2 linked regions of the Homo sapiens genome follow. The protein of the gene in region 2 interacts with the protein of the main gene of each other region in a biochemical or structural test. Each region holds a gene or a part of one and is shown on either strand. Other genes may lie near its edges.

Region 1 (4,761 bases), on a different chromosome or scaffold from region 2:
CTTAATGCTGACAAAACAAAATCTTAGGAAACACCAGGGAGTGGTTATAAAACACAAAGCAATTTCAAAACAAGAGTGATAAGAAAGGATGGCTAAGGGCCAAAGTGGCTGCCACTAAAGCCCCTGAACCTAGGGAATTCCATTCGGATCTCTTGGAGGGCAGGAAGTCAGAGCTGGACTTTCCCAGGATTTGGGATGGCTAACCAGACAGACAGACGCCCTGGGTGTGTACCTGCAGCAGAGTGCCTCCTCTTTTTTCCTCTCCCAGAACCACCCAAATACACAAGGTGAATGAACTTTTCTTTGTGATTCTTATTTTTAAAGTTCTTCAAGGGGAAAAAAATTCACAAAATACATATCATAAGCATTTCCTGTAAACCAGTTTCTGTCAGGTCTTTACTCCAGCTTGTGGGGGTCTCCCTTGGTGGCAGAGCTCTGGATTTGTCTGCCACTCACTAGATAAGGGCCAGACCCAGATGGGTCACTGAATGGTGCCTTGGCTTCAACTGAAGAACTCTAGACATACCAAACCAGACCAGAAAATAGCCTTTAATTTTACATGTACAAATGCTGCTGTAAATTCGTAACAGCGAAGAAAAATATATACGAACCGGTTTAAAAGGAAAAGTAAAAAACAATCCACAGTTGAGCAGTTGATGTGCAAATCATCCCAGGAATCCAACTTTCTGTCTCTTGGGCCCCAGGCTTTCTTCCTTGTGCACAACACTCTGCAAGGAGGCATGCAGTACCTTGCCCACACGCTTGCCAGTCTGTGGAGAAGGGACGGGAGAGAGCACACACCCCCTTGTAAGGCACACACACTCTGACCAGAAAAGCATTCCTTTCTGCCAGCTAGTCTTTCTGACATTGTACACATTCCATCTGCCTTAGAGGACTTTTATTTAATTAAAGCAAATTAAAACAAAAACCACAGACCCCAACAACATAATAAATTTTGTAAAAATCGTCATATCAAAAAAATAAAAAAGAGAGACAAACACCAGCCCCCACCAGGCAACAAACAGAGAGCAGCAAAGCCTGCCCTGGCCATTAGCTCATGCTTCACTATCCTGCTGCCACTGCAACAAGCAACAAAGTTGTCAATCAAATCTGGGCTTGGGTACAGCCAGGTGACACTGTACTATAGGGAGACCACAGGGAATCCAGAGTCTGTCTGGAGAAGAAACAGATGATGCCAAGGACATTTTAGTAAGCAGCTTCTCATTCACCTCCCATGAAGCCTCTAAGCAGAACTGCTCAGGTGTGACCAAAGTCAGTACCTGGATGGGATCTTTGGTGTTTACTGCCATGCTGAGATGCTAAAGGCAGTGAAATGTTAGAATCGAAACACATCAAGAGGGACAACCCACAAAATTAATAATCAGTCCCTACAGAGCAGACACGAGAGGTAAAAAAAACAAAAACAAAAACAAAACAAAACAAAAAAACTCAATATGGCTGGGAGTAGTGGCTCATGCTTGTAATCCCAGCACTTTTGGAGGCCAAGGCAAGAGGATTTTGCTTGAGGCCAGGAGATCAAGACCAGACTGGGCAACAGAGTGAAACCCCATCTCTACAAAAAACTAAAAATTAGCTGTGCATGGTGGTATGCGCCTGTAGACCCAGCTACTCAGGGGGCTGAGATGGGAGGATTGTTTGAGCCCAGGAGTTCACGGCTGCAGTGAGCTGTGACTGTGCCACTGTACTCCAGCCTGGATAACAGAGCAAGACCCTGTCTCAAAAAACAACCACCACCCCAATATAAAAAAATATATTTTTCTTTATGAAACTGTTATTCTGTCTCTGGGCCCAAGAATCATTTTAAGAATACAAAGAACCAACCACAAATCTCTACCTTATCAGGTCTTTCACATTCCCATAGCAGTGTGGATTCAACTCTGCCACTGGTTCCATTCTCAACAATGTTGAGATAAAAACATCCATGCCTAAATCCCTGCCTCAATCTCTTCAGTTACAGGTGTATCCTCCCCAGAGTAATGACTTGTGTGTCTTCTCCCCTGGCCCCTAACTGTAACATGGGATGAGATCCCAAGTATGACTAAAACTCTTATGAAAAGATGATTTCGATCTAAAAGGCTGGGAAGTGATCACCTCTATGAAATGCAAAGTCAGGGTTAAAGGTCAAAAAGGCCTTCGGGGGCTGGATGTGGTGGCTGATGCCTGTAATCTCAACACTTTGGGAGGCTGAGGCAGGCAGATCACAAGGTCAGGAGTTCAAGACCAGCCTGGCAAACATACTGAAACCCCGTCTCTACTAAAAATACAAAAAAATTAACTGGGAGTGGTGGCGGGCACCTGCAATCCCAGCTACTCGGGAAGCTGAGGCAGAATCACTTGAACCAGGGAGGCGGAGGTTGCAGTGAGCTGAGATCGCACCACTGCACTCCAGCCTGGGCGATAGTGTGAGACTCCATCTCAAAAAAAAAAAGGGCCTTTGGAAAGATTTTCCCATAACATTAGAAAAAGAAAAAAAAGTCTGAATCTGTCAAACAGGGGTACTGATTATTCATATACATGAGGGTGGGGAGAGAGGACAACAAGAGGAGATGAGATGGACAGGATGCCAGGACTTGAGAGGGCCTTGACGCCTCTGAATCCAGATGCAGGAAAGCAACTGCAGAGGCTAGGGGTGGCAGCCTGCACAACTACCCCCAAGGCTCTCAGCTCCACCAAGTCATTTTCCAGATTGCTGCATCCCTGTGTGAGATAAACAGTAAGACAGGGCCACAGAGCTATAGTCCCCTGTCCAGAGTTAGCAGACCTCACTCCCCAAACCTGAGGGGAGGACAAAGCTCAGCTCACTGAACAGAGCTCTGGTTCTGCCATCTATGACAGCCAGGGCAGATCTGGTTTATAAGGCTGACATTGCACAGTGGCTGGGAGCAGGGGCTCTGGACGCACACAGTCTTGGCTTAAATCCTAGCTCCAGTATTTATGAGCAGGGAGGCCTGTAGGCAAGCTGCTTATCCTCTGTGTGCCTCAGTTTCCTCATCTGTAAAAATGAGGACAATAATAATAGTTACCTCACAGGTTGTTGAGGACTAAATGATATATTTAAAGCAGTGAAAACAGTATCTGGCACATAGTACGCACACAATAAACTCCAGCTATTTGTTTACTGTGCTTGTTGTTGCTGTTTAAAGAAATTCTCATAAACTCTCCTGGGAGGGGGAAGAGTACCTTCTAAAACAAGGTTTGACAGTCCCTTGCCTAGAGGACTTTGGTAGAATTTATGCAGCATTAAGTCTGGAGAAATTTGAACTCAGGGTGCTTCATGGAGCACAGAGAATAAGAGCTGCCATTAGCTGAGAACTGATGACATATCAGGCACTGTGACATGTGCTTCTCCTCTACACCTCACATCATCCTAATAACAACCTCAGCAGTGTCTGGGCAGATATTACTATTATCAGTCCCACTTTGCAGATGAGGGGGACTATGGCCCAGAGCCAGGTTTGCAGCCAGGGCAGTACACCCTCACAGCCCATGGTTGGGAACTCCATGCTATATACAGTGCTCATTTTGGCCTTTTAAATAACATGATAAAGAGAGAAAGTAGATGTCATGTTCTTGGATTCTTCAGTATGAAGTCATTGTTTCTAAACACAAAAGAAGAGTGCTTGCTATTAAGCAATGATCTCTGGGCATGTGTGGTGATATAGAGGTTGCAAGAAAGTATGAATAATCAGATCCTGCTAACTCTGTTCCTGGAAGTTCAGTCAGTCAATCAGTCAGAAAGGTGAGGTGGATATAGGGGAAAGAAGGTCTGGGAAACAGGTGAGCAGGACCCTGTCCCTGCCCTGCGGGGCTTCCAGGCCAGTGAGGTGACAGACATGTGGGGCAAACAGTACAGAGAACTGTAGAAGCGCCTTGATGGCTCTGCTAGGGATGAGGGCAACCCAACCCAACTCCAGTGGGTCAGATTTCTTACCATCCCTGCTTGTCTCCATTTAAACACTTCTAGAGCTGTAACGAATTTGGGAGACAGCCACAGTTCAGCCCGTGCTTCCACCTTTACTCACCCACTTCTAGGGACAGGAAGCAGTGAGCCAAGAATTCTATTCCCTCATCAAGTCACAAAGGCCTGCACTTTTGGAGTTACGAGTGGCTCTTTACATTATGAAAGTCCAACAGTCTTATTTAGACACATAGAAATGAGATGGGGGGTACTTACTGAGGACAATTAATGGTTACTGGTAGGCTCCTTACCTCCCAGTCCAGAGTATCCACCCCCACAACCCCCCTTGATTAGGTCAGCAGACCCCTGGCTCAAACCAGCTGTTCCCAAATCTCCAAGTTTGGGGTCAAGGCTGTGAATGGGGAGAATCCCCACGGTATGACCAAGGGAGCAGGAAGCAGCAGGCACCCCGGCCAGGTCCCTGCACCTTCCTCAGAACTAAGGCCTCACCTCCATCATCTCGAAGATGCTCTCTGGGTCCAGGCTGCCCTTCCCCACTTTCCTCATGCACGTCACAACTCCCTTGCTGGTCACCGACACCAGCAAGCTGGCCAGCGAGCAGGCCTCCTCCTGAAGAGTAGCATCCACCACATGCCGATAGCCAATCTGCAAAGGCAGGGTGCGTGGCACACGGTGGGTCACGCAGGCCCCAGAGTCCCACCCCTGATGGCCTCGTGGTGGGAATCTCTACACCAGGCAAAAGTATTTGCACTGGTCATTCCAGGTCTTATTTTAGATTCTGCTCACGAGGAAAACAGCTGAGGGATTGTTCAACAATTCTC
Region 2 (7,033 bases):
GTCATGTTAAATGAGTATATGAAAATTGCTTGGCACATGGTATACACCCAACGGATCAGTTATTTTTGTCTCCCCAGTACATCTGTGCCCTTTCTTCTTTAAATCTATGGTTTTATTTATTTACAAAATAGGAATATTTTGCAGATAGCATATCATTAGCTTTGCAGTTTGAGTCTACATTTTAAAGATAAAAACCTATTTTCATTTACTGTAATAATCACAACCTTTGTCTTCATTTAATTTTCTTGTTTCCTTTCCATCTTTTGCTGTACAGACTTAGTTTCTTTGCTTTTTTTTTTTTTTTTTTTGCATTGATATGAATAGTTTCACTAATTCCATTCATGGTTACTGTAAACATTCTTAAAACTTTGTTTTATGGGATTATCAGAGTAACAAAATAATGTAGTCCCTTTATGGACTATAAGTAACTTAATGCTTTTCTTTCCCTATTTCATATCCCCATATTTGGTGCAATAATTTAATTCACTTACTTCATTATTTTGTTTTGCATTGTATTTTACACCTACATTTACACTATTAACTTATTTGTACATACTTAAATGGTTTCAGTGTGAAAAAGCAGCTTCTGACCTAGCATTCACACTAGGCGGTGGCGTTCTCCTGCTGAACATTTAACAATTCTCAAATCTCTAACATCAGATGAGGTCACTGTAATCCGGATAAAATGAGATACTGTAATCATGCCTGAGCACAGATAAAAACAAAGTCACTGTGCAAACCATAAACAGCCAACCTCTTCTTGTGGCTAACATGGGTGACTGTTGCTTCTTTCCTTTCCTCCCACCCACAACATAAAAATTAAGATACCCAGTTGCAAAATCACTCCCACTTTCTGACAGCACTCAATCCACTTTCTGACAGCACTCAATCCAGAAGAAACCCTTGCTCACTTGAGCCCTCCTTAAAATTAGCTACATGTGCTCAAATTCTTAGCAAGCCCCTCCTTACACCTTCCCACTGAGAAGCACCCATAGACCCCAGTGGTGTGCAGTCTCTCTTGCTGCAGCAAGCATCAATAAAACTAATTTTGATTATAATTATGCCCTGGTGATCTTTGATGACATCAACAAATGATGAGCATCAACAAATGTTTGCCGCAGAATTTTCTACCATCACCTACCCTCCAATCTTAAAGTTTTGAATTATCTCTTTATGATACCCTGTCCCCTGGTTGGACTATCAGCCCTATTAAGACTCAAGCCCCAGAGCTTTCTCTTGTGCCTGGAATATGGCAGGATCATAATTAGACGAGGAAAGGATGAATGTTTTTCTACTTACATATTTCTATAAATATTTTAGAGGGAAATTAGAAGATGATTCAGTAGTTTGTATTGGGCCTACTTGTCTTGATTTTTTGAAAACTGTATAATTTTGAATAACTTCTATATATCAGGATCTGTAATTGTTATTTTTATATCAATAAAAAAAACCTCTAATACTTCTATTGAAAAATATTGATTACATAACAACATGAAAATAACTTGGCTAACGCTCACAACTATGTAAAAAAATGCATTGGAGAGACAGAAAAGAAATACATGAAAACATTGGCAGCAGTTACCTTTAGGTGACAGAACTGTGGGTTAATTTTATTCTTCCCTATATTTTCTGTATTTTCCAAATTTTCTGAAGTCACTATGATTGCATTTTAACAATGGTTAAAACTATTGATTTGCATACTCATGGGAGAAAAACAGCTATGCCTAGAAACTGGCCTCTAAAACATTTCTCACAGTAGAGAGGCTCAATTGTCATGAATGTGTGAATAATACTAACAAGTCAAAACATAGTTCTGTAATGTGTTCAAGCCACATTATCCTAGAGGTTAACTGCTCAGAAGAATCTCACAAAGAGTCAAAGTCAGAGGACAAAGCCATTAGTGTGAAGAAACAGTAAAATCATAAAAAAGAAGACAGTCAGGACAAGAAATACCTGAAGCAAAATGACACAAAATGGATGTACTATAAATTATGGATGAAAGTAACAGGGTAGGAAATCAGAGCATAACCAAGCTTGGGCATGTCTGCTTTACCTCTTTGTCACTTAATCAACTCGAGCCTTCCACTGCCAACAGTCTTCTTACACAGTGGATCCTCGAAATAATATCACCACTCCTTTCAACCACAATCAATCATCAATAAAATGCAAATAAAAAGATTGTACTTAAACACTATTGGAGAAGGAAGGAATGAATAAATGCATTCATTTCTACTACTATTTGTTTATGCTAAACTGTAAACTAAAATTCTTAATTCGATCACAGTCTTATATAATATACAGAGTGGATGGTTTCTTGTTTTTACTCCCCCTACCTTAAACCCCAATCCATTTCCCCTTCCTAACAGCACCCTGAATTTCCAACCCTCACACAACTGTTAGCTACATGCTTTGTGTGATATTAACTTCACACTCAAACACAGGATATCCTAGGGAAGTATTAATAAATAAAATTCAATCATAGTCAATGATGAGATGTTTCTAGGACTTCTGGAGAAGATATGCTCTTTTAGTCTGTCCTTGCCCTGGATGGGAGATCTGAGGATGTAAGTGTGGAATTATCACATCTTGTCAAGAACCTGGCATTACAGAAGAGGTTTTTTATGGGTGGCAGGGTGACAGGTCTTGCTCTGTCACCCAGGCTGGACTGCAGTGATGTGATCATGGCTCACTGCAGCCTCGACCTCCTGGGCTCAAGTGATCTTCCCACCCCAGCCTCCTGAGAAGCTGGGACTACAGGCATGTGGCACCACACCCAGCTGATCTGTTTTTAAATTTTTTCTGTAGAGACATGGTCTCACTATATTGCCTTAGCTGGTCTCAAACTCCTGGGCTCACGCTATCCTCCCGACTCAGCCTCCCAAAGTGTTTTGATTACAGGTGTGAGCCACCGCGCCCGGCCGAGAGTTCTATATAGAGTTTGAGAGCAAAACCAGCACCAGGGAAGGCAGAGTGGAGATGAGTCCTTGCTAACATTGTGTGAGCTGCTCGATCTAAATGGAATCAAAGCTAGAGCTACCTCTAATTTTCTCAGTTATGTCATTCAAAAATTTTTCTTTCTGCTTCAGTCACTTGAAGTTAGATTTCTGTCACATATATCTGTTAAATTCTTGATTAATATTAATATTTAAATAAAACTTTCTTAACTCAGTGAATCTGAAGTGACAACTACACATGTATTTTGGTAAAGCAATATACCAAGTGTGTTCACTTGGTAATCATTCACTAAGCAACACATGTATAATCTGCCTACTTTACCATACAGATGTTATTGCTTATGTTCAAAATGTCAGGTTCACGAAAAGGTGCAGGGAGAAGAAATGCTGTTGTATATGTTAAGCCATCGATATACAAATCACGCTGCTAATAAAAAAAAAAGCTTATCATAAACAGTCTATCAGATCAGAGTTCCAGGTTCAGCTGAGGTCAAAATCTACTCTAAAGCTCCTTGCACCCAGAAGGCACCTCAACGAATACCTGTTGTTAAATAAATAAACCTTGGGGTTTGTTGTTGAAACTTTAAAGAAAAACATGACTCTTACTTACTCACAGGGGACTTATAATCTATAAGGTAAGCAAGATAAAGAAAGGGCCATCATAGGTATAATTCTAAAAGTGAGAATGGGAAAAGCAAGTTATGGTTAAAAAAATGAATGAGATGAAATTGGATCTGCCATTAGGATAAAAAAGAATTCATGTGACAGAGCTAGGAAACTCTTAGGTGAAAAAGATCCCACAAAACCCCTAAATCATATTTACTGTTAGTGGCAGAGAATCTCATAAATGTCTAAAGAACAAAACACAGTTTGTATTATGCTCAAACTAAGGCATTTTATTAGCTGGCTTTACAACTTAAATAATATCTTGGCTTTCAAAGGAACAGCTTCCACTAATTCCAAATTAAACTTTCACAAGTTTACTTGTTTGGGGAGGGACATTCTTATGGTCACCACAAAATACTTTTATTATAACCTTCCCCAAATCTTTTCTTAGCATTAACTGGAAAAAAAAAAAAAAAAAAAGCTTAGGTCAAATATCAACTGCCTGAAAAACCCAATTAAGTTACTTTTCCTTAAAACATGTGCAGTATAATTGAATCAAAAGAGAAAACTGCAAATACATTGTGCTTTGGCCAGAAGTAGAGTTCATTTCATGATGATTCAGTATCTTCAGATACTATTTTTGACACTTGCCATAAATCTTAGCAAAGTAAATCCATTTATTAACGTTTCAAAGGCAAAGTTGTTTTTAACATTAGACTTTCTTTGCCAGTTGGCAACTTAGAATTTTTGCAGAGGTGATTATTAATACTTCTTTGCAGCTAATTTTAGCTTTAATTTTTCTCTCTCATCTAAAAACATATCAATTGCACATTGTTCCTTTGACTTAATAACTGCATTCTTGAAACAGAGGTTAGCTATTTCACTGTATCCAGAAACGTGGTAGAAATTCTGACCCATCATTCTTTTATCTGTTAAAACAAAAAAAAAAAAGACATTTGCTGTAATTTAATCAATCACATTATAAGAACAACAAAGGGAAAATTATGGTGAAAGAATTATTATATCAAGAGAAAATCTTTTTCTTTGTCCTGCAACTTTCTTCCTTTCCTAGTCATGCCATTTCTGCAATTTACTATAATCTCTCCATTATTCTCCACAAATGACTCTATCTTATTTTTAGAATGCTCTTTTAGAAAGAATGCCTTGATAGATTAAATGTGATATTGATGGCAACGATATCAGCTACCAATATTGGATGCTTTTTATGTGCTGAGTGCTTTGCACGTTATCATTTCATTTCAACACAACTCTAGGAGGTAGATTCTATTATCCTATTTTTACACTGAAGGAGGTAAATTGAAGGAGAAATGCATTTATGCCGCTAAAAACTGGTGGAGCAAGAACACAAATGGGCAGTGTAACTCTGAAAGCTGTTTTCTTCACCTCCACCCCACACCGCCTTCCATATGTATTTTACTTAAATTATGTATATAGAGTTTCTTGGTGCTTTAGCAACTTAAAAGAAAGATTTTTCATGATATGTGTAACTCACTTTTGATGCAACTTAAAGTTTATGTTATATCCAATTAAATAAACTAGTTTTAGGCAGAAAACAATCATGTGGAGTAATGAAGTACCCTTTAAAATACAATATTCATAAGATTCATATTAATTATGATAGTGTAGAAGAAATTAAATCATTGAAATTTTCTGGTTCATTTCTGGCTGTTTTCTCCAGCAATTAGAATTTAATATAAATTCTAATTTCTTGTTCTAGTAGCATAACTGTGTTTCCTTTAAGGCATAAAATCTCACTGAAGATTTTACCAATCTTCCAAATATAACCCTATCCCTTAAAGGACCACTACAACCTAAAATGAGTAAGGCTTCTCCTAATCAATGCTTTTTCTTTCATTCCCTCAATGCTTTCTTTTCATTCCTAAAAGGTAAAAAAGAAAAGGCATCATAACTATGGATATATAATGAGTCACTTTAAAATAAAATACCTCAGTGACAACACCAGCAGCTATTGTAGAACCACCGTAACGTAGCATGAACCTCCCCAGCTCTTTAAAGTCTTTATATAGCTCAAGAGCTATTGGTCTTTGTGTCTGTAGCTCTACCAATGCATTCTGGCCTTTAGTCAAAAACCTATTAAGAAAAAAAAAGAACAAATGAATATATGATAGAGGTGAATAAATGTAATAATAACAACTTGAAAAACAAATATTTCACATTTAACCAACATATCAACTGAGTCTTTCAAAAACAAGAAAAATATTTTTTGAATGAAAATATATGTCTTTGGACTTTCTGCTTTAGTTGAAAGAAATGAGGAGTAATTCTAGATTTAAGAAACATTAGGTAGTTCATTTTTACCAATCTTCCAAATATAACTCTATCCCTTACGGGACCACTATAGCCTAAAATGCTTAAGGCCCCTCATCATGAAATAAATGCTTTTTCTTTCATTCCCTCAAGAAAGTGAGTTCAATTATCTAATAAAGAAAGTTATACTAAGGCTTATTTCTATAAAAAAGTATTTGCAAAGAGGAATATAATGCCCTATGTCTTTCCTAGTAAAACTGTAATTTATGGAATGTGTATTAGGAAGTTATCTGTGAAGAGGACAATCAATCTGTTGTTGCTAAGATTCCCCTCAATCAATCAAGCAATCTCTCTCTTTCCCCACACAGGAATAATAGTTCCTTAGCAGGAGTTCAGGACAAAAATCACATAAGTAGCTTTTCCACAATATGATACTTGTAAAATATGAAGGAAGACAGGGCATGGACCAGACTGTAAATGATTTCATAAAAATAAGTGAACAAAAATCTCTAGGCTAGGCCCTGCTCAGACTTAGTGAGAGAGGCAGAACCTAAAAAGGGACATTTTGGAATTGTTTTCTAATTTAATTTTTATGTACTCTAGAAGTATAGTGGACAGAAATCATAAACTCTCCTTTTGAAAGATAAGTTCAGGGGCAGACGACTAAAAGAAGGTTCTAAAAAAATACACCAAAAATTCCAAATATTGGTTTTGGACAATTTCAGGCTTAAGTTCATTCCTTAGGAAGGAGAGCATCTAATACATAAATGGCTTGTTCCTAATTTAGTTTCTAGAACATTAAATTCCATTCTGCATAAAGCAATCAAGAGCCTACAACGTGCCTGAACAGGAATGAAAGGGAAAGGCCAAACGGTTGTGCAAAATAAAAGGATAAAGCTACAAATAAGATGACAGGGAACACAAACACGAGAATATGTTAAACTCTACCATCATTGAGCTAGGATTTTGTAGCAGGAGCATGGAGGGGAAGACTCAGGATTATATATGATGAGCCAATTTCAGACTGAAAATTCTGTATCAGTTGTCTAGGTCAAACAACCTGGCTCCTGAACAAAAGAATATAATTTATGTAAACCAACTGACTAGGTTAGAATCCTGCCTCTACCACTTGAGCTTTGTGTCACTTGCTAGATGCTTCACAGGATTGCTAAGAATATACATTA

Evidence for each region. The genes of interacting proteins can lie anywhere in the genome.
Region 1: the proteins of HBS1L (region 2) and EXOSC7 form a complex in vitro, tested with the Homo sapiens proteins (one study listed by BioGRID).

Annotation. Positions count from the first base shown.
Region 1 is NC_000003.12:45,007,244-45,012,004, reverse strand, and holds the end of EXOSC7 (exosome complex component RRP42), read right to left. Parts: intron 4,586-4,761; coding exon 4,430-4,585; intron 771-4,429; coding exon 666-770; 3' UTR 534-665; downstream 1-533. UniProt on the Homo sapiens protein: Non-catalytic component of the RNA exosome complex which has 3'->5' exoribonuclease activity and participates in a multitude of cellular RNA processing and degradation events.
Region 2 is NC_000006.12:134,960,802-134,967,834, forward strand, and holds part of HBS1L (HBS1-like protein), read right to left. Parts: intron 5,673-7,033; coding exon 5,528-5,672; exon of another isoform or gene 5,525-5,527; intron 4,490-5,524; coding exon 4,478-4,489; 3' UTR 1-4,477. UniProt on the Homo sapiens protein: GTPase component of the Pelota-HBS1L complex, a complex that recognizes stalled ribosomes and triggers the No-Go Decay (NGD) pathway.